7 linked regions of the Homo sapiens genome follow. The protein of the gene in region 3 interacts with the protein of the main gene of each other region in a pairwise test. Each region holds a gene or a part of one and is shown on either strand. Other genes may lie near its edges.

Region 1 (4,157 bases), about 12 Mb from region 3:
TTTTTTAATTAAAAAAAAAATCATGTTCTTTGTTTTTCTAATAAAATGTTAGGTTGTTTGGTGAGGTTTTTTTGTTGTTTTTTTCCTTTCTTTGTTTCTTTTCTTTTCCCCCAAACAACCAGATTAAATGCTGAGCGCTTTTAAAATATCAAAACTTGTTCAAGTCATAAAACAACAAAACATAAGTTTTATTTAAAAAAAAAAAAAGAAAGAAAAAATAGTAAATTCCCAGAAATTCAGTGTTTAGACGAGGGAATTTAATTCCTATTTTGTCCATGTTGGTGATGTACTGTACTTCCCTTCCTTTTCTCTGCATCCCCCATCACCTCATAGAAGACTCTTTGTTGATCATTGTATGTTAATAATGTATAAAATGGCTATCTTGTAAGCGTGCTGTCCTGGTACTAGTGTAGCGACTTTTTTTCTCCTCTTTCTTCTAGTACATATTGATAGGTATAACATAATTAAGGTTTAAAAAAAATTAGACATAGTTATTCAGATTTAGGACCAGTAAGGATAGAACTTTCTCTTATTTATGAAAAAAAATGCTAATAATTTTGGGGCAGTTTTTTCCTTTAATTATTTTTTTCAATTTCAAGTTTAATTTTATTTTAGCTGATCTGATGTGGTTTCAACTAACCCAAGGTCTCACCATGTTAAAATGCCGGCGGACTCTACGGCGTTTTGTAGATCCCCCCCCCCCCACCCACTGTGAAGGGGTGCCATACTACCTTAAATGCTAATGCTAGATATGCAAAACTGGATTTTTTTAATTTATTTTTTAAAAGAGGGAGGCATGGTATATTAAAATGATTTTACTAAGAGAAAAAATATTTTTTTAAGAATGCTCAGAAGAAATTGATAATCTGTGTGAATATGTTTTAGATGTTTATATACCTTTTGAAGAGACCCAGTAGCCCATAGCACAAATCTTGTGGAAATCCGATATGTTTTAATGTGGCTACCTAGGTTTAAGGTTCACGTTAGTCCCCCCATTCCATCTAGAAGTCCATTTTGAAAGATTTTTGTAAATTCTTTTAACACTGATGTTTCAGCCTCGTCTTTGTTTCAGTTAAGCTCAATGGCGAACATGGGAACCACCTTTCGCCTTCCCTGGGGGAGAAACCCTCTTGGCTGATGGCTTTTCCCCGGAATTATCAAACAGCCACCGGGTGACTTTCTGGCTTCCAGATCCATCTGCCTGAGACCCCCGAACTCCTCTCCTCCCAAGCAGAGGCGAGTGAGTGGCATTAGCTCCCGGACCCATTCCCGGTCCTAGCTGGGCATGGGGCTGACGGAGATGACCAAGCCTTGGTCTGCTCTCTAGCAGCTTCCACAGACTTGGCTCGTGGCCTTCCTTATATCCACTGGGAACAAACAGCCTCGCGCTCTATACCAAACAGCCTCGCGCTCTATCCCAGTCGCCCATTAGCTTGATTCAAACAAAGCCCCAGCAGGCCTTTGCGTTTTTATCCTTCATAACCTTCATCTTAATTTGAACTTGTAGCTTGGACTTTAAGGTAGCATGGCTCTATTGCTGTCAATTTACTGTTTCACTGCACAGCAATCACAGCCAGTGAATGTTACACACATCTTGCTAGACTAGTATAAAAATCATTGGGTAATTGTTGGTTCTAATGACCTGAAAGGTGTTCAGTTTTTGTTCTTGGTTTTGTTTTGTTTTTGATTTCTTGGGGGTGGGTTTTGCTTGTTGTTCCTTTTCATTTGGGGGTTTTTGGGGAAAAAATTTATTTTTGGTTCCAAATAGAAAAACAAAACCTATTTTGATCTTTAGTGCAAACGAGGGCTAGGGACTTAGCCTCCTCCACCACCTCCACACTGCTTCATTCTGCCATTCACTCACTGCAGCATATTCAAGAATAAAGCAATATCGTTTACTACATTTTTTATTGAAGGTCAGCCATGCTTTCTGTATTATATTGCATATGAAATTGTTTACAAAAGAAACACTAACTCATACTTCTCTTTATTGGTTGCAAGTGGCACGCAGGAACAGAGGGAGAGTGGGGGGCTGGTGGGGGAGGGGAGATTTTTTTTTTTTTTTCTTGAATGTGCTTCGCAAGCCAGGCTATCTTCCAAGGAAGGCAGACAGTGGGAGAGCAGAGGGACTGACTGCAGGCAAGCACATTGAAGAAAGACACTGGCGGGTTTCCCCACCCTCACCCCAAAGCAGAAAACTAGCAGACGTCAGCTCAGCCCCGTCCTGGGCACAGACACTACACAAGGAGACGCTGGAAGTTAAGCAATACTTTAATACTGTAATATGTTTGTTTTCTTTTTCTTTCTTTTTTTTCTACCAAAAAAAAGTAAGTAAACTAAAACACAAAAACATATAAATAAAATCCATCCCTCTTGTCGGGGACCTGCAGGGGGGCAACCTTAATCCAAACACCTGGCTATCAAATAATCAGAATGTATTGTCTCAGACAGGATTTCAGTTCCGGGAGGCAGGGGCATGATGGGGGAGGGGGCCGGAGGCTGAGAGACAAAAGTTCCAGAGCCTCCCTCGAAGGTTCTCTACTACTGTATTCTGTACATAATGTACCATCCCATGTGGAATCTGTGAGTGTCCTCTTAAGTAGCGTGGGCTAGCCAATCTGCCGTTCATGGTGTATTGTAAACTCCGAATTCCATATGTAATAGGATGCAAGTCTAAGCGTTTCATGTGGACATAAATGTATCTAAATAAAACTTTCCCTAGCACTGTGGCTGACCTCACCCTTACTTTTATACTTTAGTATGAAACTGATGAGAACTTTGGTAGTGAGTATTTTTTTTATATATATACATATATATGTACTATCTATATATATATCTCAAGCATCTTTCAGGTCTTTGTGTGTGGCTTTCTTAAAGCCCTGTTGTAAAAAATTACTATGTGGATGGCAGTCTCTCACATCACAGATGTGGAAAGTATAATTTTATATTTGTATTTTCAAATAAATAAGTTTGTGAAAGGTTTCCATCCTCTACTGTGGTCCAGAAATCAATGTGTTTGTCTGACAAAAAAAAAAATAAAATAAAATAAACTGTTTTGAACAGAGTTGTTTGGTGTTCTTTCACTTGCAGAGGAGGTCTGGGGTCTGGGAGAGCTGTTGTTTTGCTTGGGCGGGAGAGGATATCATCAAATCGCACCTGCCACCCTCACCCCTCAGCATGAATGCTGGCCGTGGGCCTCCAGCAGCGAAGAAGTCCCTGCCTTGTCCCCAGGGAGCTTGTGGCACCATTTTTATGAAGTGGCAAGAGAGCACTAAGATGGAAGAGCAGACGGGAGAGGGGTGTAGATTAACAGCAGAAGGTACACAGAACCCATGAGTGGACAGGGAATAAACCCCAAAGGTCCTGCGGATCAGAGGACCCAGATGGTGGAAGGAGCTAAGGGGCCCTCCCGGGTGCTGCCCTCAGTTATCAACAGTGCTGGGAGAAGGCGCCAAACCGCATTCCACGACCCCTGAGTAGGGGTCTGAATAGGTATCAGACCTCTGCCCTCAAGGAGTTTTAAGTTTTGCCTACTGGAAATCATTACAATCACAAAACTAAAGATGTAGAGATAGATCATCTACAATACTTTCCACCCCTCTCTCTACCAAACAAACGAGAGGATACAAAAGAATTGAGACCCAGTACATTGAGGGCAAGTCCCAATACCTGGTGATGACGGCTACAGCATGCTCTGAATCAGTGGATTCCTCAGCTTTGAAGCCCTGGAGAGAAACACCAGGCCAAGAGGAGTGCAAGGGATGAAGCGTGGATGAAGGACAGTGGCCCTTAGCTGCTTCCTCAAGGCCCCCAGGAAAGCTGTATTCTCCAGGACATGGCCTTCTTGGGTCCCTCCTCCAATTTCCTGTCTCCTGCATATAACAAGTTTATCTTTTTTGTAAAATGGGTCTTCCGGTGAAAACCAGAAAACCAGCTAGACAGGTTCTTTCAAAAAGCTGCAACACTAACAACTTTGTTTTAAGGCATTCCCGCTACACTGGGGTCCTAGAGGAGACAGTCGAAGGTGCATTCCTTTATCTGGAGCTGGAGGCAGGAGCACTGGGTTCCAGGCCCACCTCCTGTGTGTCCACAGACAGCACTCCACAGTGTCTCGTTACATTGTTTAGGGGCAGGAGAGAAGAGTATAATCCCTGCTG
Region 2 (4,823 bases), on a different chromosome or scaffold from region 3:
AAAATGCAAAAATTAGCTGGGCATGGTGGCGCACAACTGTAATCCCAGCTACTCAGAAGTCTGAGGCACGAGAGTCACTGGAACCCAGGAGGTGGAGGTTGCAGTGAGCCAAGATTGTGCCACTGCACTCCAGCCTGGGTGACAGAGTGAGACTCTCAACTCAAAAAAAAAAAAAAAAAAAAAAAGGCGGCTGAGGTCATGAGAAGTTAAATTAGTTGACATTGCTACTTATAAACTATGGAACTATTTCTTGTGGCAGATGAGTGTTAACAGAATTCCTTGTAGAAACATGAACTTCTGTTTAAAGGCTGTGGATTTTGGGATTTTAAGAGCCTAGGCAGTGGGGAATAAAAAATTTTCATAGTTATATTCAATGTAAGTTAATGGAATTAAGATTTCATCTCTGAAACTTTACATTTTTAGCTTTCGTGATCTGTAATTATCTTTTCTTCCCACTTTCATATGATGTAAATAGAGCCTAGGTAGCAGGAGTTTCCTACCTAGGTATTTTACACAGTGAATCTGACTCAAATGTAGTTGGGGCTTTTAGAAATATTGTTAATAAACTTTGAGCTAATAGTTGCGAACTCAACATGCTGAAAGTTTGTAATTAAGAACAGTATTGGCTGGGTGTGGTGGCTCACGCCTGTAATCCCAGCACTTCGGGAGGCCGAGGCAAGGCAGATCACCTGAGGTCAGGAGTTCAAGACCAGCCTCGCTAACATGGTAAAACCCTGTCTCTACTAAAAATACAAAAATTAGCTGGGTGTGGTGACATGTGCCTGTAGTCCCAGCTACTCAAGGAGGCTGAGGCAGGAGAATTGCTTGAACCTGGGAGGTGGAGGTTGCAGTCAGCCAAGATCATGTCACTGCACTCCAGCCTGGGTAACAGAGCGAGATCTGTCTCAAAACGAAGAAGCAGCAGCAGCAGAAGGCCAGGTGCAGTGACTCACACCTGTAATCCCAGCACTTTGGGAGGCCAAGGCAGGAGGATTGCTTGAGGTCAGGGGTTTGAGACCAGCTGGGCCAACATGATGAATCCCCGTCTCTACTAAAAATACAAAAAATTAGCTGGGTGTGGTGGCGGTTACTCAGTAGGCTGAGGCAGGAGAATTGCTTGAACCTGGGAGGCAGAGGTTGCAGTGGGCCGAGATGGCAGCCACTGCACTTCAGCCTGGACAACAGAGCAAGACTCCATCTCAAAAAAAAGAAGAGGAAGAGTTTAATATTTATATAATAGTATTGCTGAGGGAGAGTCTAAATCTGGGACACTATAATAGGTTCTCTTTTCATAAAGAGATTTGTACATTTGAGTTTTCATAATGTCCTGTGTAATGATTCAACTTTTTATTTTTATTTCTTAATTTTTTTGGCGGGGGAGACAGAGTCTTGCTGTGTCACCCATTCTGGAGTGTGGTGTCATGATCATAGCTTAATGCAGTCTTAATCTCCCAGGCTGATGTGATCCTCCTGCCTCAGCCTCCCCAGAAGCTGAGACTATAGGCACATGCCACCATTCCCAGCTAATTTTTTTCATTTTTTTTTTTAGTAGAGATGGGGTCTTGCTATGTTGCCCAGGCTGGTCTTAAACTCCTGAGCTCAAACGATCCTCCTGCCTCAGCCTCCAAAAGTGCTGGGATTCTAGGCATGAGTTACTCACTGTGCTGCCCAGCCCAATTTTTTAATACATCTCGGTATCTAGATTATAAGGGGCAGTGTTTCTTTTCTTTTTTTTTATTTGAGACGGAGTTTCGCTCTTGTTGCCTGGACTGGAGTGCAGTGGCACAATCTCGGCTCACCACAATCTCTGCCTCTCGGGTTCAAGCGATTCTTCTGCCTCAGCCTCCCAAGTAGCTGGGATTACAGGCATGTGCCACCCACGCCCAGCTAATTTTGTATTTTTAGTAGAGATAGGGTCAGGCTGGTCTCAAACTCCCGGCCTCAGGTGATCCACCCACCTTGGCCTCCCAAAGTGCTGGGCTTATAGGTAGGTGTGAGCCACCGTGCCTAGGCTATTTTTTTTTTCTTTCTTTCTTTTGAGACTGAGTCTCACTCTGTCGCCCAGGCTGGAGTGCAGTGGCGCGATCTTGCCTCACTGCAGCCTCTGCCTCCGGGTTCAAGTGATTCTCCTGCCTCAGCCTCCTGAGTAGGTGGGACTACAGGTGCGTGCCACCACGCCTGGATAATTTTTGTATTTTTAGTACAGATGGGGTTTCACCATGTTGGTCAGGCTGCTCTCGAACTCCTGACCTCAGGTGATCTGCCCACCTTGGCCTCCCAGAGTGCTGGGATTACAGGCGTGAGCCACTGCATCATAAGGTGCAGTTACAGGTGTGAGCCACTGCATCATAAGGCGCAGTATTTCTATAGCTTCTTAAATTTTGTAAATAATGATGTATAGCATGTTCTCCCACCTCACCCCATATTTTCTTATATATTCCTTGATACTGTTTCAGCAATGGTGATTGTTCCCACTAGAGAACTTGCTCTACAGGTCAGTCAAATTTGCATCCAGGTCAGCAAACACATGGGAGGGGCCAAAGTGATGGCAACCACAGGAGGAACCAATTTACGAGATGACATAATGAGGCTTGATGATACAGGTAAGAAATGATTACTAAAAGGTAGTGTAGCTCTCTGTTATTTTAGTCACAAGTATTTCAGTAAATTATTAAAAATTGTTTTTAAGAATTAAGGAACAGAAATACTGCAGTAAGAAAAGGAAATGACCACTGCATTCAAGCGAAAAAGACAAATTACCATAATTGAAAACGATATTTGACTTTATTAGTAATTGTAAAACAGCAAGTTTATAATAATTTTACCTGTTTAATTGGTAAAGCTAAAAGTATTAGTAGACGATAATGTGAGTTTGTGGACAAATAGGCTACATTGTAAATGTGGGGGTGTAAACTTACATCTCTATCATGGGCAATTTGGGAGTATATTTTAAAATTATAAATGTATATATAATGTGTGTGTGTGTGTGTATATTTTTTTTTTTTTTGGAGATGGAGTCTTGCTCTGTTGCCCAGGCTGGAGTGCAGAGGCGCAATCTTGACTCACTGCAATCTCCGCCTCCCAGGTTCAGGCCATTCTCCTGTCTCAGTCTCCTGAATAGCTGGGATTACAGGCTCCCGCTACCACGCCAGGCTAAATTTTTGTGTTTTTAGTAGAGACGGGGTTTCACCGTATTAGCCAGGATGGTCTCGATCTCCTGACCTCGTGATCCACCTGCCTCAGCCTCCCAAAGTGCTGGGATTACAGGCGTGAGCCACCGTGCCCGGCCATAAATGTATATTTTTAAGAATCTTTCCTGAAGAAAAAAGTTGGGTAAATGCAGGGCTGTAGGTACAAAGTTGTTTGCTATGGGGTGGTATTGTCGTGCCGAAAAATTGGCCAACTTAGAAGGAGATTGGCTAACTAAATACGTTAAGGTATAATCTGAATAGGATTCTACATAGTCATTAAAGAGTAAAGTTGACCTGTATTCATTTTCATGAAGAGGTTTCATGATACATTGCCGAGTGGAAAAAGGTAACAAAACAGCAAGAATGAGATCACTCATATAAAATTATATCTTGATTTTAGTTAGAATATTATATATGATAATTATGTGATACATTCTTTGTATTGCATAGGTTTTTAAAAAATTATCTTGTTTGATCCTTTTAACAATACTCGGCTCACTGCTCTAGATTAGAGGCATTGCTCTTATGTCAGAAGTCTGGTGTGCCTTCTGCTATTAATTGAGAATTATCCTAAGACAAGAAAGTATGCCTACTGTTGAAAGCAGCAGGTGATTTAGGAAGCTGTACCCCACCCAATGTAGAGGTGAAACAAATATTTTTTAAGCATCCTGTGGTGAAATGGAAGTCTTTATCCTAAAACACATCTTTGTGCCTTTTTGTGTTATTTCCACCTCTATAACACAATGTGTTTCTTCTCTTTCTTTCTTTTTTTTTTTTTTTTTAATTTGAGACACAGTCTTACTCTGTTGCTCTGGCTAGAGTGCAGTGGTGTGATCTCGGCTCACTGCAACGTCTGCCTCCTGGGTTCAAGCGATTCTCCTACCTCAGCCTCCTGAGTAGCTGGGATTACAGGCTCCCACCACCACACCCAGCTAATTTTTGTATTTTTAGTAGAGACAGGGTTTCACCGTGTTGGCCAGGCTGGTCTCGAACTCCTGACCTCATGTGATCCACCCACCTCGGCCTCCCAAAGTACTGGGATTACAGGGATGAGCTACTGCACCCGGCCTAGTTGTTTCTAATAAAAGATAGTCATGTGCTGCATACAATGTTGTGGTCAGTGACGGCTGCACGTATGTCGGTGTTCCCATAAGATTATAATGGAGCTATACAATGGAGTAGGCTATACCATCACATAGCAATGCATTTCTCAGAATTATCATTAAGCAGCTCAGGACTGTAATATTATAAACCTTTATCCTCTTTGCTCAAATTAAAATTAATGAGAATGTATGTTTTCTAAATCTTGCATAGTGCACGTGGTGATTGCTACCCCTGGGAGAATCCTGGATCTTATTAAGAAAGGAGTAGCAAAGGTTGATCATGTCCAGATGATAGTATTGGATGAGGTAATGTCTCTTCATTTGGCATTATACTGTTCTGTACTTTTCTGTGCTTTGCTTATAACTGCCAGTGAATGAAGCAAAAGCTGCTTGTGTTTATGATCTAATAAACACATAAACAATCAGTTTAAATTAATTTGCTTATAAAATGTGTTTTACCCGTCAGAGGGAGTAGATTATAGGCATTCATTGGAATTCAGCATTTTGTCTTTTTCTTAGAGATAGCAGA
Region 3 (3,898 bases):
CTTCTTTACCTCCTTCGCCTTCCCTGACTGCCATTACTTTCTCGATCAGCCCTCACTTTTTATTCAACGAGTAAACTGGAAAGATCTCTGAACCCGATGTACTAAGCCAGGTCACCCTGCCCGGGATGGCTGGCGGGAAGGCAGGTCAGTTTGGGCTGGTGGAGAGCATGCAGTTTATTCCTGGCATGGAGTGGATTTCAGGAAGAAGATGAGGCAGGGACAGCAGATGACAAATCTCCGCTTGCCTGTGGCAAGAGTTCTGTGTGTACATTTAAACATGGGTGTGTGCAATTTTCAGAGGATCCACTTCTGCCCAGTTTGGTGCAGGGGAGCTGGGTAGTTGCCGACTTTTCCTATCTTGATCCCTACTCAGTGTAACAATTTATCTGTACAACTGATTCCATCACCAGGATCTTTAGACCCCTCTGGTCATTCAGCCAATCACAAGCACTCATCCACAGGACACCGCCGATGATGCCATTTACTGAGCAGTTACTATGTGCTTGGCCCTAGTGAGTACCGGGTTAGCTTGTGTGAACCCCATGGCAACCCGTGAGACAGGTACCATCATACTCCAAGTTGTGGATGACAAAAAACTCTCCAAGCAGCTAAACAATATGGCTTAGGTCTCACAGTGAGCAGGGAGCTGGGATTTGTGCCCAGGAGGCCCGATCAGAGCCTACCTCCTTAACCATTAGGCCAAACTGCCTCCACATGCAGAACACTGCCCTGCACTGGGGACCTGGGGGAGGGTAACAGTGTCTGCCCTTGAGCTGCTCCCAAACCTTCCTTGAATAGCCTTGGCACAAAATGCATTTCTTGGGGACTCGCTGACATGGTGTTTGGATTTCTATCGGGTCCCTGATTGGGCTCAGCATGGAGCCTGATGAAATATGAAAAAAGCAAAGAAAATTAAGGGACTATACATGGAAGTTGTTCGAGTTTGTATTTTGCTGAAGCCCATTCTATCTGCATGCTTACAGAAAGTTTCCTAACTGGAGAACCCAGAAAGCTCAAAACCTGTCTCAAATTCCTCCTCACACTCAGTTGGGAGCCATCTGGGCAGGCAGGGAACCTGGCAGAGGTGGCAGGAGCATGGCACCTGGAGACAGGAAAGGAATTCTTGGACAGCAAACTCTTTGGCAAGGCAACAGGGGCGAGACAGAGGATTCTCAGGTAGCCCCAAGGTACCACAGTATAATGGAATACTTATTGCAAAGCCTGGGCCCCAGGAAGTGAGAAAAGCCTCCCAGGCCCATCTTTGCCAAAAGATTCTTACAAGAGGACTTGCCTATGCCCACCCAACTCAACCCACACCCACAATCTCAGAGCAGGCCTCATCAGTGGGCGCCAACGCTTTCACCTTGCCGAGGTACAGAACCTAAGCTGGGGATCTGATGTCCCTAAACCTCAGAGACTTGACCTTGGCCACACTGAATCTACGTCTTGATCCCCCAGTCTTGATTTCCAGCCTTCCCTGGGTCAATCAAACCAGCTGCCCCGTCATATGGCAGAGCAGTCCAGAAACCCTGGATTGGGGGAAGAGGTTTAAGGACCTTAGGAAGAGATATTTGCTCTTTGTTTTATAAACAGAGCACCAATGTAGAGTGAAATGCCTTGCTCTCTGTGTCGGGGCCAGATAAGAAATTGAGAGCTTTAACTCCACATCTCCCTAACCTTATTCTGGGTCATGCTCCGATTACAGACTCTTGTAAAAATTCATTTGTGAGACAGTGGTTTTGGAATCAATATTCTACTGGGTCAATGTTATAGATCATATCTGGGTTCCCAGACTAGTCCACAATGGCCAAGTAAACCCACATGTGGCTGAGAGGGGAGGGAACTAGTGTCAGGCAACCAGCTCCACCACCCACTGGCTCTGTGACCTTTAGCAAGTTACTAACCCTCTCTGTGCTTCAGTTTCCCCATCACGGAGATAATAACAGCACCTGCTACATAGCGGAAGTGTTGTGAGGATTAAATGAGATAATCTTAGCAAGCACTTAGAATAGGGCCTCCTAAAAGACACTCAATGAATGTAATTAAGATAGCAGTGCCAGTGTCAACCCCAGCAGTGGTGACATTGGGACTGGGTCATATTTTGATGTAGGAGACTGTCCTGTGCCTTCCTTGTAGGATGTTTAACAGCATTCCTGGCCTCTACCCACAAGATGTCAGTAGCACCCTCCCCGAGTTGTGAAAACAAAAACATCTCTCTAGACATCTCAGTGGCCCCCAGTTGAGAACCATGGTTTTACAGGAAAACAGCTGAGAGTCCCTGCTGGAACATGAGGACTCCTCTCCCTGCTGCAGCCCAGCTGGTGAGGCTGGGGTCTTCTCTTCCCGTCACCTGCTGAGGTGCCCCCCAAACGCCAGCTCCATGTCACTAGTGGAAGCACCTAACTCCTGGGCATGGCAAGTTAGGAGTGGCCAGGGGGGTGTTTCTGGGAGTGTGAGGGGGCTTTGGGGGTCTCTGAACACGGTGATGAGGAAAGTGGTGGTGGAGGAAAGAGCAGAGTCAAACGCAGTTTCCCACCTGCTTCCCACTGTATTTCCCCATTTATCCTTCATGGATAAAATCCATTTGGTATGGACCGAATACCTCTTGTATGTCTAGCACTGTATTAGGCCCCTACGGCTGTTTTTATTTGTTTTTGAGTGATTCTTTTTCAAGGAGGGAGTAAGGAAGATGCTAAATAAATACATCAATAGAAGGCAAGGTCCAGTTGGAAAATTATCACATGTCCAATTGGAAAAATAACACGTGTTCGTACATATAGCCACAGAGCTACTGAAACCACACACATAAATGCTGAGGGAAAGTGGAATAAAACAGTTTCTTTAAATTTTCAACAAATGGACTGTAACAACAGATGTTAAAAAGGCAGAAGGAAAACCACAATCTTATCCCATCTCCAGGCTGGCACCGACCTCCAAGGGCATGAGGGTCAAAGGGCACGTTTAATAGAAAGGCCACTTTTTCCAACCGGAATAAATCTAACCTTTCCTCAATCAAAGCGATTCTAAGTTTTCTAACAATTTATGGGCAGTATCCATTTCTTTTGTTCCTGTCGGAGGAGCAATGCCTGATATTAGAAACCACTTAAAAGTCACGCCCTTCCAGCAGGAACAGTCATGGACTGTCACTCATCCAAAACCCAGCAAAGCCAACAAGCCCCTTCCCCAAATCGTCCAAAGGTGAACCCAAGAGCCAAGCCAGGTTATTGCTATATAAACATCTGTTAGAGAAGCAAACTTGGCCAAGGAATGTATGAGCTTCAAGAGTCACTCCGGACCTGCGTAGCAGGGGTGGGGGCAGGGGATACACTTATCTGTTTATCCATTAATTTGTTTACGTAGAGGGAGGATTTGGAGATGCTTATACAGTAAATATAAGCAGCTTATACAGTAATTATAATACAATGCTTATACAGTAAATACAATGCTTATACAGTAAATATAAGCAGCCATCACAAAACACAAAATGACACCCCAGAATCAACCGCGGTAGGAAAGACATTTCCCTGTCTCCTGTAGGATGGGTCAGTTAAGGGGCCGAGGGGGATCAGATAGAACTCAAATTGGTCCTGCTGAGCCTGGAGCCTGAGCACGCAGAGGGGTGAGCTAGGCAGTCGCTGTCGGAGCCCCCATCATCCCTTCCAGCCTGGACCATTCTGAGACGGAGGTTTGGAGTTACAGGTGTGTGAGCGCCAGAGGGTGAGAGGGGTCACTCGCTCGGAATGTAAGAGCTCCCGCCTGCTGGGAATGGGGAGGAGTCGTCGATGGCCCCAGGATCCGTGCCCAGACATTTCCAGAGGCGCACCGGCTGGTTCAGCACCCCACCGTCATCCGCGCAAAAGCTGCATCCCTCGAGGTCCTGGAGGGAAGCCATTTCCTT
Region 4 (4,823 bases), on a different chromosome or scaffold from region 3:
AGCCTGCTAGAGAAACAGATTTCCAGCAGGATGGAGGACACATTTGAGATTTACCAGCATGAGTAAAAAGTGAAACTTTTCGAAGCCAACATTTAGCTGTTTTGAGAAGGAGCTTGCTAGAGTTTGGGATTTTTCCAGTAAGGAAGGAAGGCACCCCAGAATTAAGCTGGACAGAGGCATTTGAAGCCAGGAGCTGAAGGACACCCGCTGCAGGAAACCACCTTCCTGTCCCTTTTTGGGTAACACTGATGATCGGAAAAGCTCCACCCCAACTCCTGTCATCTAGAGCCTTGGGTTCTTAGTTTGAAGGGTTCCACAGCAGGCATGATCTAACTCTGGACAACTTTCTGTATCTCAGGAGATTTGTGCCACACCCCGGCTGTTTCCAGATGACCCACGGGAAGGGCAGGTGAAGCAGGGGCTGCTGGGGGATTGCTGGTTCCTGTGTGCCTGCGCCGCGCTGCAGAAGAGCAGGCACCTCCTGGACCAGGTGCGGGGCCCCTTCCCTGTGTTTGTCCTGGAGCCGGTTTCTTTTTGCGTTTCTCCAGCCTGCTGAGTACCAGGAGGCCTTGCGAAAGCAGAGCTGTGCCGCAGCCGGATCTCCTGCTGTGTTGGGGGAAGGCAGGAGAGTTCCAAGGCAGAGGCTGAGGACTGCACTCTGTCCCTCTGCTGCAGGGGGGGGTGCCTTGGCCTCGCCAGAAGGCTCCATCAGGGAGGTTCGCCCTGCTCTGTGCTCTCCTGACCCCCGGACTCCATGGAGTCAGATCACCACGTTTAGAATAAAGAGACAAATGTGCCAGCTCACAGGAGGACGGGGCTGGCTGGCAGCCTCTGCCTCAGATCTCTCCTCAGCTAGCTCGCTGGTTTTCTTACAGGTTTTGAATATAAGTTTGCAAAAAGTTATTAAACCTGTTTCTGTGGGTAGACAGATACTCTGGGAGGAGAAGGCCTTCTCAGGTTTTCCTTACCTGGGAGTGTTCACCGTTTTATGCTTGGCTTGTTGCTAAGTGTTGCTGATTAATGCAGCGGCGTCAACAGTGTGACCTCATTCAGAGTTTCACTCATGTCCCAGGCCCCATGGTAAGCGTGTCACAGTCACTGGCTTTCAGACACATGGTCTTACCAGCTTTGACTTTTTTTTTAAACGAGAGTGCTAAAATCACTGCCATTGTGTTTCTGGCCGTAAAGTGGCAGAGCCAGGACCGCACCAGGTGCCTGGTGCCCAGCCTGCACTCCCCCGATGCTGGGTCAGAATGCTTACCCCTGAAGGAGCCCTGCGGTGGACGCTGTGGGTGCAAGCAGCTGGCCCAGTGTCGGGGCGCCAGGCTCCCAGCAGCAGGAGGGGCTGCTGTTCCTGTGGTGACGTGTTGCTTGCAGCCAGCTCGGTCAAGAACTGGGTCACTCATGCCCTTGAATGTCACATTTGTTTTGGCTTCAGGTCAGATGCTTTTAGTGAGGGCAGCAGAGTGTGTCCCGGGATATGTGGCTCCCTCGGTGTGGTCCTCAAGTTTTGCAATGAGAGGTCTGTTAATTTCATGTGGGTGATGCAGCCCTGTGCAGGCGCCGACATCCAGGTGTGCCGAAGAGTTCTCTGCGACATCCAGGTGTGCCGTAGAGTTCTCTGCGACATCCAGGTGTGCCGTAGAGTTCTCTGCGACATCCAGGTGTGCCGTAGAGTTCTCTGCGACATCCAGGTGTGCGTTAGAGTTCTCTGCAGACCGCGGTGCCTGTGGAGCACTCAGCTGTGGCCACACCGCGGCCGGGACACTGGAGTAGCGCCGGGTGGTGCTTATATCACGCTCGCCTTTTGCTTCTCCCTGTGCATGGCAGGTCATTCCTCCGGGACAGCCGAGCTGGGCCGACCAGGAGTACCGGGGCTCCTTCACCTGTCGCATTTGGCAGTTTGGACGCTGGGTGGAGGTGACCACAGATGACCGCCTGCCGTGCCTTGCAGGGAGACTCTGTTTCTCCCGCTGCCAGAGGGAGGATGTGTTCTGGCTCCCCTTACTGGAAAAGGTCTACGCCAAGTGCGTGTGCTGGGGGCTGAAGGGCCTGGCCTGGGGCAAGTGGGAGCTGCCACTACCATGGGCTGCCCCAGGAGGGTCTCTGCTCACTCTGGGCTGCAGAGCCCCCTTCAGTTCTGAGGGTCTGGCAGCTCATTCTGTGAGTCAGGCTGACAGGCCAGGTGCAGAGATTCTTCTTTTGGGCCTGTGGATTGCCCACTCCCTGCTTTCCCTTCCCTTGTTCCAAAGCCCAGCGTGGAGTCGTTCTCCACAGAGAACATGTGTGCCGTCCTCCTTATTTTATCGGCCCCAGCAAGAAAGATGCTTCTTTATATTTGTTGTGGAGTGGTTGGGACAGGCAGACTCATTGTGTAGTCGTTGGGGAGGAATGAGGCTACCCCAGCATACCAACACTTGTGTATCACGGTGCTTGCTGGCTCAGGGGACCAGGACCCTCACCATGAGTCATAATTGAATAGCCTTCCCTCTTAGAATGCATTTGTCTTCTTGCCAAAGGCAACTGGACTGACAGGCAGGCAGGGAAGCTGGTGAACATGGGAAGGCTGGCTGGTGACATCAGTGCCCAGTGAGCCCTTCCATCCCAAGGGCTGTTTTAGGAAAAGCAGGGTTGGAGCTTGAGAGCCAAGGGATGTGGGCATCCATAGCTTCCACGCCTCCTGCCCTGCTCCTGTGCCCACACCGGATGCCAGAGAGTTTCTGTGTGTGGGCAGAGGACTGCAGGGCGCTCACGCTTGCTGTGAAGTAAGGCGTTTGAAGGTGAGGCTAAGCCTTGACTTGGTGAGGATGAGGAAGAAGGCAGAGGGGAGTAAAGAGGTGGGATTGAGGCAGCGGTTGGACGATTTGGGGTGCTACAGACCATGGGAATCAGAGAGGGGGCCATGCTCAATGCCAGAGGCTCACTCCCATGGTGATTGTGTCCCCTAGGGTCCATGGGTCCTACGAGCACCTGTGGGCCGGGCAGGTGGCGGATGCCCTGGTGGACCTGACCGGCGGCCTGGCAGAAAGATGGAACCTGAAGGGCGTAGCAGGAAGCGGAGGCCAGCAGGACAGGCCAGGCCGCTGGGAGCACAGGACTTGTCGGCAGCTGCTCCACCTGAAGGACCAGTGTCTGATCAGCTGCTGCGTGCTCAGCCCCAGAGCAGGTGAGGCACGTGGCCAGCATGGGAGGGCTGCAGCCAGCGTGCCCCCCACTGCCAGGCCTCAGGCACACTGTAGCTTTTTATGTGACTGGCTACACAGCCCTGTCAGGACTAAGTGGGAAGAAGTAAGCTTGTTCTCAAGGGTGGTGTCCTCAGTTTGTGACCTTCCCCTACTGTCCTCTTCCAGAGGGACGTGGCCCTTCTCTCCCCTGACCAGTCCTTTCCACTAGTGCGAGGCAGGAAGAGGTGGCACCGAGTCAAAGCCCACTGTCTGTGCCATCCCTGGCCCAGCTGGCAACCTGGCAAAATCAAAACCTGTTTTTTATTTTAGTGATAGATAACATTCGTTAAAAACAGTTTGTCTCCAAAAAATGAAAGGGGCCAGGTGTGGTGGCTCACACCTGTAATCCCAGAACTTTGGGAGGCTGAGGTGGGAGTATCGCTGGAGCCCAGGAGTTCAAGAGACCCGCCTGGGCAACATGGCAAGATCTCATCTCTACAAAAAATGAAGGAAAAAAATCACTTAGATGGAACCACATGTGACTTTTGAGTGCGCTCTCAGTTTTCCATGAGCACGCACGGTTTACGTGTTCCCTTCCGCACCGCTTCTCACACTGCCACACACGCGCTGTCAAATGTTCGCCCCATGAGCGGGTTTGCCACAGTCTCTTAATCATTCCCCTGATGTTGGATATTAAGATCTCTCTGGTTTTATATAATTATAAGCAGTATCAATGAACATCTTTATCATTTTTTTCATACTTAGGATTATTTTAAAAATATGGGTTAAAGAATATGAATATCACAGTAAACTGAAACAAGTTGTCATAGGCCTTGGTCTGGGTCCCCCATAAGCAGACCCTGAGATGAGGTTCAGGAGCACGTTGAGAGGTTCAGAGAGCCTGGAGGGCGTGTACTCCCCGCCAGCCCCGCTGGGGTGCCAGGAAGGACGCTGGCCTCAGAGCCTCCCACCTGGGAGTGAGGGCGCTGGTCTGGTGGGCATTAGCTCGGGGAGCTGTTGGTTTTGGGTGCTCCAGGGTGGGGTAGCGCTAAGTCCTAGCACTTCAGGCTTTAGAGGAAGCCCCCAGGCAGAGAGAGATGGCAGCTGGCACTGACTGGAGGTGCATTGGAGCCTGCTGAGGTGGCAAGGGGCCGCGGCGTGGGCGAGACTGAAGTCCTTCCAGGAGACCCTCCTCTCTAGACCGTTGCCCCGCCACAGATGTGGCCTTCCTCTCTGTTTGGCTCTTTCTTTTCTATGCCCATCTGTCTCAAGGTCTCTGGCCAGGTGGAGCTGTTGCCCCCCTGGGCCTCCATGCCTCCAGTGGGCTTCTAGCCAGGGCACTATCTGAATGTCCTACCTCTAGCAGGCTTTGCCAAGAGAAACACTCTCTAGATTTCTGGCAGTTGCAGATGCATCTGTGCAGCATGTTTGAGAACTGGTGCTGTGCCAGGCATCGTGCACAGATGGGTACGGACGATGACTGAGGCCTAGAGAAGGGGATGACTTACCCAGCACCAGACCCGGATGGCAGCCGAGTCAGGCCCCGTGTGCTTGCTCCTGGAGATGCTCCTGAGCTGATGGGTCACAGCTGCTAAGAAAGGAGCTCTCGTGGTCCATGGGGATCTGGGGTCTCCCGTGTAGCCATAGTGGGGTGGGCTG
Region 5 (4,773 bases), on a different chromosome or scaffold from region 3:
ATCACAGTCACTCATGCAGCACCGACACATGCTCGGCCGCAGGCACTGTCGCTGGAGCCACACATAGTATCATAAGGCACACAGGGCCACACACAACTGCAAACATGGTCTCAGTTACCCCTGAGTTCCAACACACTCCTAATCTCCCGGAGTCTCACTGCTGCCACCTGGTGATGCACACTCATCCATGGTCTCATATGCACCGCAATGCAATTGCTCAGTGACAGGGTCAGACTCACCCACAGCCCTGTGTACAGAGGCAGATGGCTAGATACACACACACCCAGTTACACAAACAGAAACACACCCCCGTTCACAGCCCCACCAGGCAGGGATGGCCACCTTACCTCCTGCCAGGTGTCCAGTAACATGATGTCATACTTGTCCAGGTCCTCCTGGCTGAAGAACCCCACTTCTGCGAGGACCAGGCAGCCCATGTGGCTGGAGCACTCAAACAGTCGTGGCTGGAAGCTGGGGACCTCCTCAGGGAGCCTGGCCAGCACGGACAGCAAGGCTGTGAGCCACCCAGAGGGGCACCCCAGCCCATGGCACAAGTGCCCCACCCCAGGGCCTGGGAAGCCACTTCTCAGGAGTGGGAGCCCTGGGCCCTCCTCTGAGCCCCGTGGTTTCTCCCCGAGCACTCCGCTCTGCTCTGGGTACAGGGTCCCTCTCTGCTCATGGAGAAAGCTCTCGCCCCACCCAGCTGTGACGCAAGGTGCCCCATGAATTTCCCTAGGAGAGGGCTGCAGGGGTAGGGGAGGGCCTGAGCTGGAGTCTCGCCCTCCCTGGGATGGGAGGAGCTCCTCAGCCCACCCCTGGCAGAGAGTAGGTCTCCGGCCCAAAGTGGAAGGAGGCAAGCCAGGCTGGGAGAAGGAGACGGGAGTACTGAGCTCAGGAGAATTGTGGGGAGTGCAGCACATAAACCAAGCCCCACAGGCAGACCAAGAGCGACCAGGACTCAGCTCCCTCCTCCCCTTGAGGCCTCACTCCTACCTCCTACACACACCCTGTCCACTTACACACCACACACAACACCCTGAATACACCTGTTCTTGCACATCCACACACACTGTATACCCACACATCATATGACACTGTATACACACACACTGGGCACCGTGATCCCTGAGGACTGTAGGGTGGGGAAGGGTGCTTTGTCCCCTGGCCCAGGACCAGGACAATGCAGGGAGGGGATGCTGCCAGCAGAGGTCGCCACTGCCCCCACTCTCCCCAGCATCTGAGAGACGCAAGTTACCCAGGCCTGGGAGCGAAGCGTGGGCTGTACTTGTGGGAGCCTCTGTGAGTGGGAAACTGAGAGTCCTTGGTTCTAGTCTCGTCTTGCCAGCTCTCTGTGTGAATCCCAGTCACCCACCCTCCTCTCTGGGCCTCAATTCCTCCTCTGGGTAAGAACACTCTCCTCCCAACCCTGTTACCTCTTGTTGCTGGGGTAGGGGGCCCGGCCTCCCAGGGCCTCCCAGAAGTGGGGAGGCTCCTGACCCTCCAGCACCGTTTCCTCATTCTTCCTGGAAATGACAGTGACCACCACCCGTGCCATCTCACGCTGATCACCATTACAGCCCTAGCAGGCAAAGAGATGGCTCAGGCCCTGCATGAGGAGGGGCCTTCACCTCCGGCCCCACGTCCCGTTCACAGGGTGTATGGGGTGGGGCTGGGCCCAAGTCACAGGAGGCCTAAGCTGACAGCAGGACACCAGTGAACAAGGCATCTTCCTCACCCTACAGGCCTGTGTCCCCAGTTGATCTGGATCGCAGGGTCTGGGACCCTCGCAGGGTCCAGAGCATGGGATAGGAGGCCCCCAGGCTTAGAGGGTCAGTCATAGTTTATGCTGAATATTAGAGAAAACTCCAGCAAACTGGCATAGGCCTCCCCTTTTCCCAAGAGACCTGGGAAGGGACATGCCCTGTGCTCCAGGCAGTAAGGAGGGGAGGCGGCCTGGGCCTGGCTCTGACCTGCGGACTCTCAGGTCCACCTGTCACTTTGTAACTTTCCCCAAGTTCTAGAGGGGACCCTGTGGCTTCTTCCCCTCCCCATTCCCCCCATCGGCCTATCTGAGGCTGGACTCAAAGTCTGCATGCCCTGTGGAGAGGACCCACCCCCAGCCTGGCACCACTACATCTGGGCATGAATCAAGTGGTCAGTGCTGTGGGTACCTTCCCAAACCAGAGGTAGCAGACGCTGGCTGTGACCAGCAAGAAGATGTCACTGGAGTTGAGGGATGAGGCACGGGCTGGCACCTCCATGGTCCTGGTGTTGTGGCTGTCAGTGCCTTGCACTTGGAAAAGCCTTGTGGTGGATGCTGACTGCCCCTTTCCATGGTGCCCAGCTCTCTCCTATAGGAGAGCAAGGCCTCAGGCTGGGCAAGGGCTCCCAGGGGCGCCTTCCTGTCCCAGTGTGGGACATATTGCCTCAGAGCTCAGGGACCCTTGCTTGAAGCCATCAAGGCCCTCACTGGTGATTTCACATGAGGAGTACAGGACCCTCTAAGTGTGGAGTGCAGGAATCCCATCAGTCTGGGACAGGGACAGACCCTTTTTAAATGGACCTTTCCCCCCATCTCTGAGTGGTTGGGGCATGGGTGCTCAGGCCTTGGAGGTGGAAAGTGGGGACCAGGTTTGCTAGTGTGCAGCCCCAGGCAAGCCCCTGGCTCCCTTTCAACTCAAATTCCTCATCTGGCTCTGGGACTGGGGAGGGAAACTCAGGCAGGGGGCCAACCTTGGAGCTCCTGGGCCTTGGACAAGCTCTGGGAAACTAGGGGATGATAAGCAGGCCCCAGGCCCAAAGAGAAGGTGCTTAGAAGTGTGTGCGGGGGCCATGGCCCATGCAGAACTGGGCAGGCTGTGGCCAGAGTGGCAAGGTGAGACCTACCTGGAAGATCACCAGCTGGCCCTGGAAGATGGCGAGGAAGTGGGGGGGCTCGCTGCCCATGGTCACATGCTCCTGTACTAGGACGCCACCATACATGACATCTAGTTCCTCAGCGTTGCTGTTCAGGGCCTCAATCTCATCCGCAGTGGCCTGGTGGCCCTGCAGGTGGGGGCAGTGAGTGAGGGCCTGGCCCAGCTCTCACATTTCACTCCCAGAGCCCAGCCCTTGGGCTTTAAGGTGAGTGCTGCCTCCCTCAGGCTGGCACACCTGCCATAGGTACAGGATGTACTGGACACGGCCCAGCCTCTGGTATGTGTAGAGCACAAGGTAGCAGTTGCCTGCACACAGCTGTCCATGACGCTTGGGGTCCACGGGCTGCCTGTGTAAGTCCTGGATGCACCACACCTGGGGAATAAGGGACCAATGGGCACAGGTGGCTGCTCTTCCTGAACCAGCCCACCCATCCTGTACCCAACCGGAAAGCTCTCCCCAGCCTCTGAGGCCTTCCTCATCCACGCAGGCCAGGGGCCCACCCTCAGCTCCAGGCCCATTCTGGGCCTTGTGCTGGGCTTTGTACAAGGATCTGCAGGTGACCCTTTCCCCACGGACCCCTGAAACCCACCACACTTGGGAGATGGGCCCAATCCCAGCCACATGCCCAGCCCTAGTCCCAACCCCACCAGCCACAACCCTGGTTAGGGGCAGTTCAGTCCCCTCCCAGCTGCTCGCTGCTCAGGCCAGGGCAACAGAAGCCGGGCGGAAAGGGAAGCCTTGGAGCTCTTGAATGAATTCCCTTTTATCCAGTGTCATTTAGAAAACACAAAGCCTGTTCAAAGACTGAAGGGGAAACACTGTCTCACATCTGTCAGTGTAGTTTCTTCTTCCTGTGGGTGGCAGAGCCTGGAGCCAGGCGGACTCTGGTCAAATCCCAGGTAGGCCCTGTGTTGGCAGTGACATTGTTCTAAGCTTCGGGCCTTTCCCACCTGTATATTGGGGATGATGACGCCTCCCTTACCTCACCTCTGCATGGCAGGAGACAATGCCTGGGTGTCCTTTCCCACACTGACCCTGACAGTTGTCCCTGGGGAGCCGACCTCCAGACCAGAGCAGCCAGAGCCCTGTCTTTCACAAAAGTGGCTGACTTGACTACAGGCCACCTAACAGTGGCAATTACCGGGCAGCCAGGACCCCTGGCTCAGGCCCTGTCTCTGCCTGCCTGTCCACTGCCTACCAGGAGGGATCCTGTCCCTGACTTTGTGCTTGGCACCTGAGTCCCAGGGCTCTCTTTCCCTCCGTCCCTCGCCTTTCCTTCTGCTTTCCTGTCTCCCTCTCCCACTGTCTGGCTCTCTGTCTCTCTCTGTGTATCCCATCTATCACTGACCCTCCCTCTCTTCTCCCTGTACCCCCTCTCTCCCTGCTCTTCCTCCACCCCACCTCCTCCTCCCTTCCCTCTGCCTCCTCCTCATCCCCTGTCCTTCCCAGTCTTTTCTTCTCTGTCTCTCTTTGTGCTCCTTCCCTGTCTTCCTCTTTCCCTGTCTCCCCCTTCTTCCCCCTTGCCCCATCTCCTCCTCTCTCAGTCTCTTCCCACTCATCACTTCTGTCCATCCATATTAGGGCAAAGGAAGAAGGAAATCTTGCCTTTTCTCTGACCTCCACCTACCTCGAGAACTAGGACCCCTCGCATAGGCCCAGCAGTTCTGTTCCCACAAGACCACAGGATCCCCACATCAGCCTTGGGGCCAGATGGGACCACAGTTTCTGACCCCACTTTATTTAAAAACTAGGGCCTAAAAAATTCAGGGCTCTGCCTAGGGGGTCAGCCAACAAGTCAAGATACAACCACACCCTCTACAGAGCCTGGAAGTAGCCCTCAACCCCTGCGTCTCG
Region 6 (4,823 bases), on a different chromosome or scaffold from region 3:
CCACCAGGCCTGGCTAATTTTTGTATTTCAGTAGAGACGGGGTTTCACCATGTTGGCCAGGCTGGTCTCGAACTCCTGACCTCAGGTGATCCACCTGCCTTGGCCTCCCCAAGTGCTGGGATTACAGGTGTGAGCCACTGCGCCCGGCCTCTGTTCACCCCTTTCTTGACCAAGACTCATCCTCTAATCTCTGCCCTTTTCAACTGAGGGCAGAATCTTAGATGGACAGGATTTTTTTTTTTTTTTTTTGAGACGGAGTTTCGCTCTTGTTGCCCAGGCTGGAGTACAATGGTGCGATCTTGGCTCACTGCAAACTCCACCCCTGGGTTCAAGCGATTCTCCTGCCTCAGCCTCCCAAGTAGCTGAGACTATAGGCAGGCTCCACCACGCCCAGCTAATTTTGTATTTTTAGTACAGACAGAGCTTCTCCATGTTGGTCAGGCTGGTCTCAAACTCCCAACCTCAGGTGATCTGCCCACCTCGCCCTCCCAAAGTGCTGGGATTACAGGCCTGAGCCACCACACCCGGCCAGGATTTAAATCTAGTCTACTCAGCCATAGAGTTCACTTCTTAGCCCTCTTGATTGCTGGGTCTAGAGAGACCCATTATTCCAGAGCAAAGAGTAGAAATTGTGCCCAGGCTCACATTTGGACAGAAGCAGCTAATAAGTGGATCAAAACTATTCTGGCCTTTCCCTGCATGTCTTCTTTTTTTCTTTTTTCCAAAGATCCTTTCCAAGTCATCCCTGCATTTAAAACTATCATTCTATCATCTCTAAATCTTACCTTCTATATTTAAAAAGAAAACAAACAGTACTTTGATTCTTCCCTTTTAATTCTACCTATCTCTTCTAGACCCTTCCCCTTTTATAAATATTTAAGGAGAGCTTACTTTGTGCAAATAAGTTTTGTCCAAAAGAGAGAGAAAGAACGAGTATGGCAGGGAATGAGACAAGCAGGAAAAGGAGTGTTGTAAAGGGCAAAGAAAGATCGCTAAGGCAGAGAAGAGGAGGGAGGAAGAAGGGAAGGAGAGAGGGAGAGGTAAGGAAGTGAAGAGGAAGATGAAGCTAGGTCTTGATTTGCATATATTGAATCTTTTCCAGGCCTCCCAGCTCTGGCACCAGATTGGGATGGTGGCCTGTCCCCAGTGAGAAGGAGGTGGCAAGGAGGCTGTCTCTTGCACTTTGCAAGATGCTTAAGGTGGGCATGAGTAGATTGGGTGAGGTGTGAGGAGAAAAGGGTAGGCTCAGGAAGAAGATGGGGGTGGTAGGGAGCAGACAGGAGGAGAAGGGAAGCGGTAGGCTGAAACCACACACGTTCACATTTGCATGGATTTGCTGAGGTGTGCTGCAGAGTGTCTGCTACTGATGGGGGTGGGTGTCCAGGAGAGGAGGCATCTCCCTTGATGACTTGGAAAGTGTTGGATGTGTTAGGACAGCAGTGTGGAGCTGCTCTGCTGCACAGATCTATGTGATTTTATAGTACACTGGAGAGACTCACATCCTGCTAGATGTGGTTCTCTCGTTCTACATACCACAGGCTTAGACAACCACGAACCAGCTCGGAACCCTTCTTCTGTATGAGCACTCAGGGAGTTGTCCCCTTAAATTCAGAATCAGGATCCTATCTGATCCTTGCATGGGGGACCGCTGAAGAATTTGGTCTCCCAGAACTTGGTAGGAAAACATTCTTTTTTTTTTTTGGAGATGGTGTCTCTGTTGCCAGGCTGAAGTGCAGTGGTGTGATCTCAGCTCACGGCAATCTCTGTCTCCTGGGTTCAAGCAATTCCCCTGCCTCAGCCTCCCGAGTAGCTGGGATTACAGGCGCGTACCACCACAAGCAGCTAATTTTTTGTATTTTAGTAGAGACAGGGTTTCACCATGTTGTCCAGGATGGTCTCTATCTCCTGACTACCTGACCCGCCCACCTTGGCCTGGGATTACAGGCGTGAGCCACTGCGCCCGGCTGGAAGGAAAACATTCTGAGTGACCGTGTATGTAAATAAGTCTTTCTGGTTATTTTATTCTGTGAACCTGTGTGATGTAATGACTGCATTTAAATAGTATTACAACAAAAACTAATTGTAATAATAGTAAATAGCTAACATCTTTAAATGTTTGCCATGGGCCAGGCACCGTGCTAGGCCCTCGGCAAGTATCACATCACCTAATCCTCCACTTCAATCTGATGCAATAGATGTAGCTATTCATTCCTATTTTACAAACATGGAGACTGATTTAGATGGGTTAAGTAATTTTTAAGATCTCCTGCTTAAAAAGAAGTAGAGTTGAGATTGGAACTCAGGTAGCCTGATGTCAGTACCTCTGCTCTTGGGTTAATTTGTAAGCTTCTGAACTCTGGCTGGTATGCATTTTGAATGAGGTCTTTTGAGTCTGATTGTATTACTCTGTGTGTCACCTTGAGCATATGTGCTATCATGTTCCGCCTGAAGGTGCTAGATGGCTGTCTTCCATTTGGTTTGTTTCTTAGTATAAGATGGACCAGAAGAGGAGCACTGCTTTGCGCAACTCCAGGGTGCGTCATTCACACTGCAGTCCATGCAGGGGCACTGGCCATGCCCTGTGTGAAGGAAGGGAAGGAGCGGGAGGGAGGGAGTGGGAACAGGAGGGAAGGGATAGATAATGGCGGGTAGTGTTCTTTGAATGATATGTGTACCCATTTGTGACAACATCTCTTAAAGTTGAAGGTCTACACATGTGTATCCATATTAGCATATGAACTTCATCAGACAAGCACTCTCCCTCCAACAGAGGGAGACCCTGTCTCAAAAAACAAAAAAAAATAGCCTTTAGAGTCAGACAGACCTGGAATCAAATTCTAGTTCTGTTTCTTAATATGTAAATGACCTCAGGTAAGTTGCGTAAAGTCTCAATTTAGTCTCTTCATATAGAGAATGGGGCAGGCCGGGCACGCGCCTATAATTCCAGCACTTTGGGAGGCCGAGGTGGGTGGATCATTGGAGGTCAGGAGCTTGAGACCAGCCTGGCCAACACGGTGAAACCCTGTCTCTACTAAAAATACAAAAAAAATGAGCCGGGCGTGGTGGCATGCACCTGTAATCCCAGCTACTCAGGAGGCTGAGGCAGAAGAATCGCTTGAACCCGGGAAGCAGAGGTTGTAGTGAGCCGAGATTGCACCACTGCACTCCAGCCTGGGTGACAGAGTGAGACCCTGTCTAAAAACAAACACATCAGAAACAGAAAACAGAAAAAAAAAAAAAAAAAGGGAATGGGGAACTCATGGAGTTGAGTCCATTGAGAGGATCATCATTGAGATTGGCACTTTGGGTGTATCAATAAATGGAAATGGAATAATTATTCATCCATATGCCTTATTTCCTGTGTTGGGGTATGTGTATGTTGTTTTTTGATTGTATGTGGGGCAGCTGGTAACCTGGCTGTAGCCCTGTCCCAGTACTTCTTTGGGGTTGGTGAAGGTGCTTGTTCTCCCTGGCTGGATTTTCCCAGGCCCTCCATGTACACGTGTGTGGGCCCTGTGCTTCCCTTTCAGTAGTAGGGTATCCTGTTCAGTGTGTTGCTGTGAGCCCGTATGTGGTTGGCCCGGCTGGCGCGGGCGTGTTTAGGGTGGTGGTAATTACTGGGATGGCCCAGCCCTAATGAGTGTGATCTCGTTACACTCTCGCTGCCTCTAATGGCGCTAACCTCATTTCACAGCCATTAGAGATGGAGATGAGGCCCCGCCCACTGGCCCTGCCAGCTGCAGCTTTTGCAGCCCTGGCCACGTTCTTTCCCTCCGGCTCGCCATTTCTCCATTCCACTTCTCCTTCTCCCACCTTTTTTTTCTGCTCCTCCTACCAGGTTTCCCTTTCCTGTCCCCCATTGTTCTTTTCCCTGGCCGTTTTTCTGCACCCCTCTCCTCTTTCATTCTCCTTTCATGTCTCCCTTCCCGCTTCTCTCTTCGATTCTGGGCTCCTCTTCTCTTCACTCATCACCCTCCCTTTTTTCTCCTCTAGTCAATTTGTCCTCCACATTGCCATTTCTCCATCCTCTTTTCCTTCCCTCTCCCCCGCCCTTCACGGCTCCAGTTCCTCCCCTCCCCCACATTGCCCTGTCTGGCCAAAGGACAAATCTCAAGGGGAAACCAGCAAAGACAAACAAGGAGCAGTGACTTCATTATCGTCGTTAATTTGCCACTTCAGTTCCTCCCATAAGGGTCAAAGCCAGCACTGCTTGAACTCAGGACTGACACGCAGGCCGAGACCATGGCCTGGCTTTTCAGCCCTACTTCTTACACAACCACTCGTCCGCCCTCCTCAGCTGTCTTCATTTCCCTGCGGAGGGGTCAGGCTTCCTGTTTGCTCTCCAATTTCTTAGTCCTCACAGCCTACTGCACTCCTTCCTTTCTCATTTAAATTGTGGCCATCTCTCTGTGCTCTCTCCCATCTCCAAGTCATGGGTTTTTCACCTTTGACTCCTATCTCTGTCATACTCTCTCCCAACTTCTCCCTGCCTAATCTTTCCAGAACCTCTTTCTCATCCTTCCCTGGCCTTCTCTCTAATTTCAAGTGCACTTCTTTCCCTAAAGCAGCAGGATTTATCTGTAGGTTTGTGGAAACCACATAGCCTGAAGAAGCTGGAGATGAGAAGAAAGGCATCTGTGGCCCAAGCAGACCACTGATACAGAACACAGAGATGGCTGGGGGGAAATGCAGACAACTGTGATGGAGGCAAGAGAAGCAGCAAAATCTAGACCCATGCCCATGGCCCAGGAATAAAGAAGACAGAGGCTTGAGATTAGGGAAAGAAAAGGGCATCACAAAACAAGGAATGAAAAATCTGAGGA
Region 7 (3,500 bases), on a different chromosome or scaffold from region 3:
AGTGGTACCTGGCCAATAAGTAGCCATGATATGACAAAGCCTAGTGAGTGACTAGGCCCCTGGTCTCAGAGCACATGTTCTAGTGATTTGGGGATTAAGAGTTCAGTTTTGGATGCAAGTAGAAGCTGCTGGTTAGATATCTTAGGTAGAAGCATTTAAAAGGCAATTAAACACATGAACACAGAGCCCAGTAGTGAGACCTAGACAAGGGGCTGGCAAGCTATAGCTGTACAGCTGGCACCCATTAGAAATTTTATTGGGACACTTTTTTTTTTTTTTTTTTTTTTGGACCTCTGTCACCCAGGCGTGATGATGGCTCACTGCAGCCTTGACCTGCCAGGCTCAAGCAATCCTCCTACCTCAGCCTCCTGAGTAGCTGGGACTACAGGCATGCACCACTGTGCCAAGCTAATTTTTTATTTTTTATTTTTGTGGAGATGGGATCCCATTATGTTGTCCAGGCTGACCTCAAACTCCTGGGTTCAAGTGATCCTCCCACCTCAGCCTCCCGAGGTGCTGGGATTATAGGGATGAGCCACCACACTTGGCTGGGACACATCCTTATGTATTGTCTATGCCTGCTTTCAAGCTAAACAGAGTTGGGACATGTGACAGACCATATAGCTCACAAGCTAAAAATATTTACTAGCTGGCTCTTTCTTTCTTGTTGTTTTCTTTTATCTTTTTTTCTACTAGCTGGCTCTTTTAAGAAAAAGTTTGCTAACTCCTGATCTAGGCTAAGAATATAAATTTGAGAACTAGAGATGGAACCTGAGGCCGTGGCAGTGGATAAGACTACATAAAGATCACATGGACAATGAGAAAAGGGCTGAAACTTAACTTGGAGAAAATGTATGTTAACATTTAAGAAGTGGGCAAAGGAAATTTTTAAAAAGATATGCATGGTCATGGAAACTAGGTCCTGGATAGGTGTTAGCAGCCATCGTTCCCTGCATGGAACTGTCCTGTTTAACCTCACTTATTCATACAAATGGCTGCCAATTAAGTGTTAAGCTTTGGGAATGGAGCTTCCAACAAAATGTTTGCCTTCATGGAGCTTATATCCAGATAATTTCACCTGCTTCTTAGCAACCTGACATTAACATCTCTTGGGACATCACTTTCTATCTTTCCTTGGGAATGATTGCCCTATCCTTCTCCAACATCTAGCCCAGTGCTTAAAAAGAGAGGGCACTGGGGCATAACTCTTAGTGATGCCTCCAAATGAAACCTGGAGACATCAATGTTAGTGACGAAGGCAGGGGAAGGTAAATTGGGAACACAAGTTAAAAAAGTACTAAAATGCAGTCATCTAATTAGTCTTCATTAAAAGAACATCTGCTGCAGTAAAAACAGGAAATGTTACTTTCTAGGATGAAGAAAGTTGGTCACAATGATAAGTATGTGCTTCTTTCCCTTAATGTTAAGAAAACTTAAAACTGAATTAAGAAAAAAAAATTGAAGCTGTGGGCACATTCTGTTACTCACTTAGCAGGAGTTGGCAAGCCAACTGACCTCTGAAATAGAATTTCCTCATCTCCAAGATGGTAAAATTTTAAAAAGGCAAAAAGCTGCCCTGTCTACGTCACAGTGCTATAAGCAACGAGAGCTACTGTAGGGCACTGGCTCTGTCTCACCCATACAAACAACAGTTACTGGCTTAAGAGGGATCTTAATTCAAATTTAAAAACTTGTAACTATCCTTAAATGACGTATTTTATTCCACAGCTTTCACAACTTTCATGAACTTTCTTTAAGCCCTTTATCTCTACAAGCCAGCCCCAGCCCTGGTTGCTACCACTCATCTTGAATATTTTCAAGAGGAATATTTCCCCCAAAGAGTCTCCCCTTGTCCACTCCTCACATCCTCCACACCACCTTGAGAATCTTAAAAAGTTCATCACATTCTGGCTGGGCACGGTAGCTCATGCTTGTAATCCCAGCACTTTGGGAGGCCGAGGTGGGTGGATCACGTGAGGTCGGGAGTTCGAGACCAGCCTGGCCAACATGGAGACACCCCATCTCTACTAAAAATACAAAATTAGCTGGGCGTGGTGGCACATGCCTGTAATCCCAGCTACTTGGGAGGCTGAGGCAGGAGAATTGCTTGAACCCAGGAAGCGGAGGTTGTGGTGAGCCAAGATTGTGCCATTGCACTCCAGCCTGGGCAACAAGAGTGAGACTCCGTCTCAAAATAAATAAATAAATAAAAGTTCATCACATTCTATCCATAACTGCCACCGAAAAGAACTCTGTTCATCTAGTGAGCATGCTATGCCTCCATGCCTTTATTCAGGATGCTCCACAGACAAATTACTCTTCTAACCTGGGAAACTGACCAAGCAGTGCCTCCTCTGTGGGTACCCAAGAAGCCTTCTCCCTTGGGGAAGCTGCTGCTATTTCCTACTTTATACCCTCCATGTACAACAGCAATCACAAACCTTTGTGCCTGGCCCTTTGCAGGTCCTCAAACATTTCTTCAAGTGACAACAGTTCTGTTTCCTCATTTTATAAGGCAGGAAAATTAAGGCCCAGAATAAGTCATTTGCTCAGAGAATAGAACTGGAGAGTCAAGATCCTCACCATGACTATTAATTCTTATAAGGAATTGGTCATACTCACGTAATTGTCGTTCCCCGTCCTAGAGTGTTTCCTCTTGGGTCAGCAATTACAGAAAATTCATTGGAGTCAGACTCCCAGATGTGCTGGGTATCGTTGTTGTGTTTTGAAGTGACAATAACCTTATCTGCTACAAGGAAGGCGGAATAGAAACCGACACCAAACTGGCCAATCAATTCAGAAGTTGACTGGCCATCTTCCTGTGCTTCAGTCATTTTGTTTAAAAACTCGCTTGTCCCAGATTTGGCTATGGTACCAAGGTTTTTAACCAACTCTTCTCTGGTCATTCCTACACCGGTGTCTGTGACATGCAGCAGGTTCTTCTCCTTATCACACTAAATGCAAGACAAGAACCAGATAGTTGTATTTAATATTTACATTATGCCAAACAAATATTGAGGAACTAACCAGCTTTGGGTCCCATCAATTCCAATACAGAAAACTAAACTGAGATATTTTCCTCCACATAGTTTTTTATGGCCTTTTCTGAAAGTGTACATCTTAAAGTAATTTATGTATTTGAGAAAGTATTAATATCAAATGGGCAGACTGGCCTAAATGTCAAAGGTTAGAGGCTGACCTAAATAAAACAAGTTACCTTTGAAGGAAAACAATTCAAGAAAAATAAAATTTTATGTCTTGCCTATTTCTTTACTAGAATACAAAACAACTTGAATGATTCCTCTATTTGGAATCTGTGATGGATCATTAATATTCTTCACTCAATATTCCTGGCTGTCTGCCTTCCAGAAACTTAGGAGTACTCTACTTTCCATTTAAGAATGGCTAAGGCCATGTGACTAGTTTTGGCCAATGAGTTATAAATGGCCAATGAGTTGTAAAGGAGAGCTCTGTTTTCAGGCTGAGCCTTTAATTATAAT

What was found.
Region 1: the proteins of MAPT (region 3) and MSI2 interact in binary tests that used the Homo sapiens proteins (3 or more experiments, as listed by UniProt).
Region 2: the proteins of MAPT (region 3) and DDX6 interact in binary tests that used the Homo sapiens proteins (3 or more experiments, as listed by UniProt).
Region 4: the proteins of MAPT (region 3) and CAPN10 interact in binary tests that used the Homo sapiens proteins (3 or more experiments, as listed by UniProt).
Region 5: the proteins of MAPT (region 3) and VILL interact in binary tests that used the Homo sapiens proteins (3 or more experiments, as listed by UniProt).
Region 6: the proteins of MAPT (region 3) and ZFHX2 interact in binary tests that used the Homo sapiens proteins (3 or more experiments, as listed by UniProt).
Region 7: the proteins of MAPT (region 3) and HSP90B1 interact in binary tests that used the Homo sapiens proteins (3 or more experiments, as listed by UniProt).

Annotation. Positions count from the first base shown.
Region 1 is NC_000017.11:57,681,626-57,685,782, forward strand, and holds the end of MSI2 (RNA-binding protein Musashi homolog 2), read left to right. Parts: 3' UTR 1-3,064; downstream 3,065-4,157.
Region 2 is NC_000011.10:118,762,989-118,767,811, reverse strand, and holds part of DDX6 (probable ATP-dependent RNA helicase DDX6), read left to right. Parts: intron 1-2,456; coding exon 2,457-2,603; intron 2,604-4,505; coding exon 4,506-4,600; intron 4,601-4,823.
Region 3 is NC_000017.11:45,897,509-45,901,406, reverse strand, and holds part of MAPT (microtubule-associated protein tau), read right to left. Parts: exon of another isoform or gene 2,609-3,898; intron 1-2,608. UniProt on the Homo sapiens protein: Promotes microtubule assembly and stability, and might be involved in the establishment and maintenance of neuronal polarity.
Region 4 is NC_000002.12:240,588,985-240,593,807, forward strand, and holds part of CAPN10 (calpain-10), read left to right. Parts: intron 1-358; coding exon 359-490; intron 491-1,830; coding exon 1,831-2,027; intron 2,028-2,948; coding exon 2,949-3,166; intron 3,167-4,823.
Region 5 is NC_000003.12:37,999,974-38,004,746, reverse strand, and holds part of VILL (villin-like protein), read right to left. Parts: intron 3,292-4,773; coding exon 3,154-3,291; intron 3,046-3,153; coding exon 2,887-3,045; intron 2,352-2,886; coding exon 2,172-2,351; intron 1,580-2,171; coding exon 1,434-1,579; intron 493-1,433; coding exon 348-492; intron 1-347. UniProt on the Homo sapiens protein: Possible tumor suppressor.
Region 6 is NC_000014.9:23,541,057-23,545,879, forward strand, and holds part of ZFHX2 (zinc finger homeobox protein 2), read right to left. Parts: intron 1-4,823. UniProt on the Homo sapiens protein: Transcriptional regulator that is critical for the regulation of pain perception and processing of noxious stimuli.
Region 7 is NC_000012.12:103,933,410-103,936,909, reverse strand, and holds part of HSP90B1 (endoplasmin precursor), read right to left. Parts: intron 2,955-3,500; coding exon 2,623-2,954; intron 1-2,622.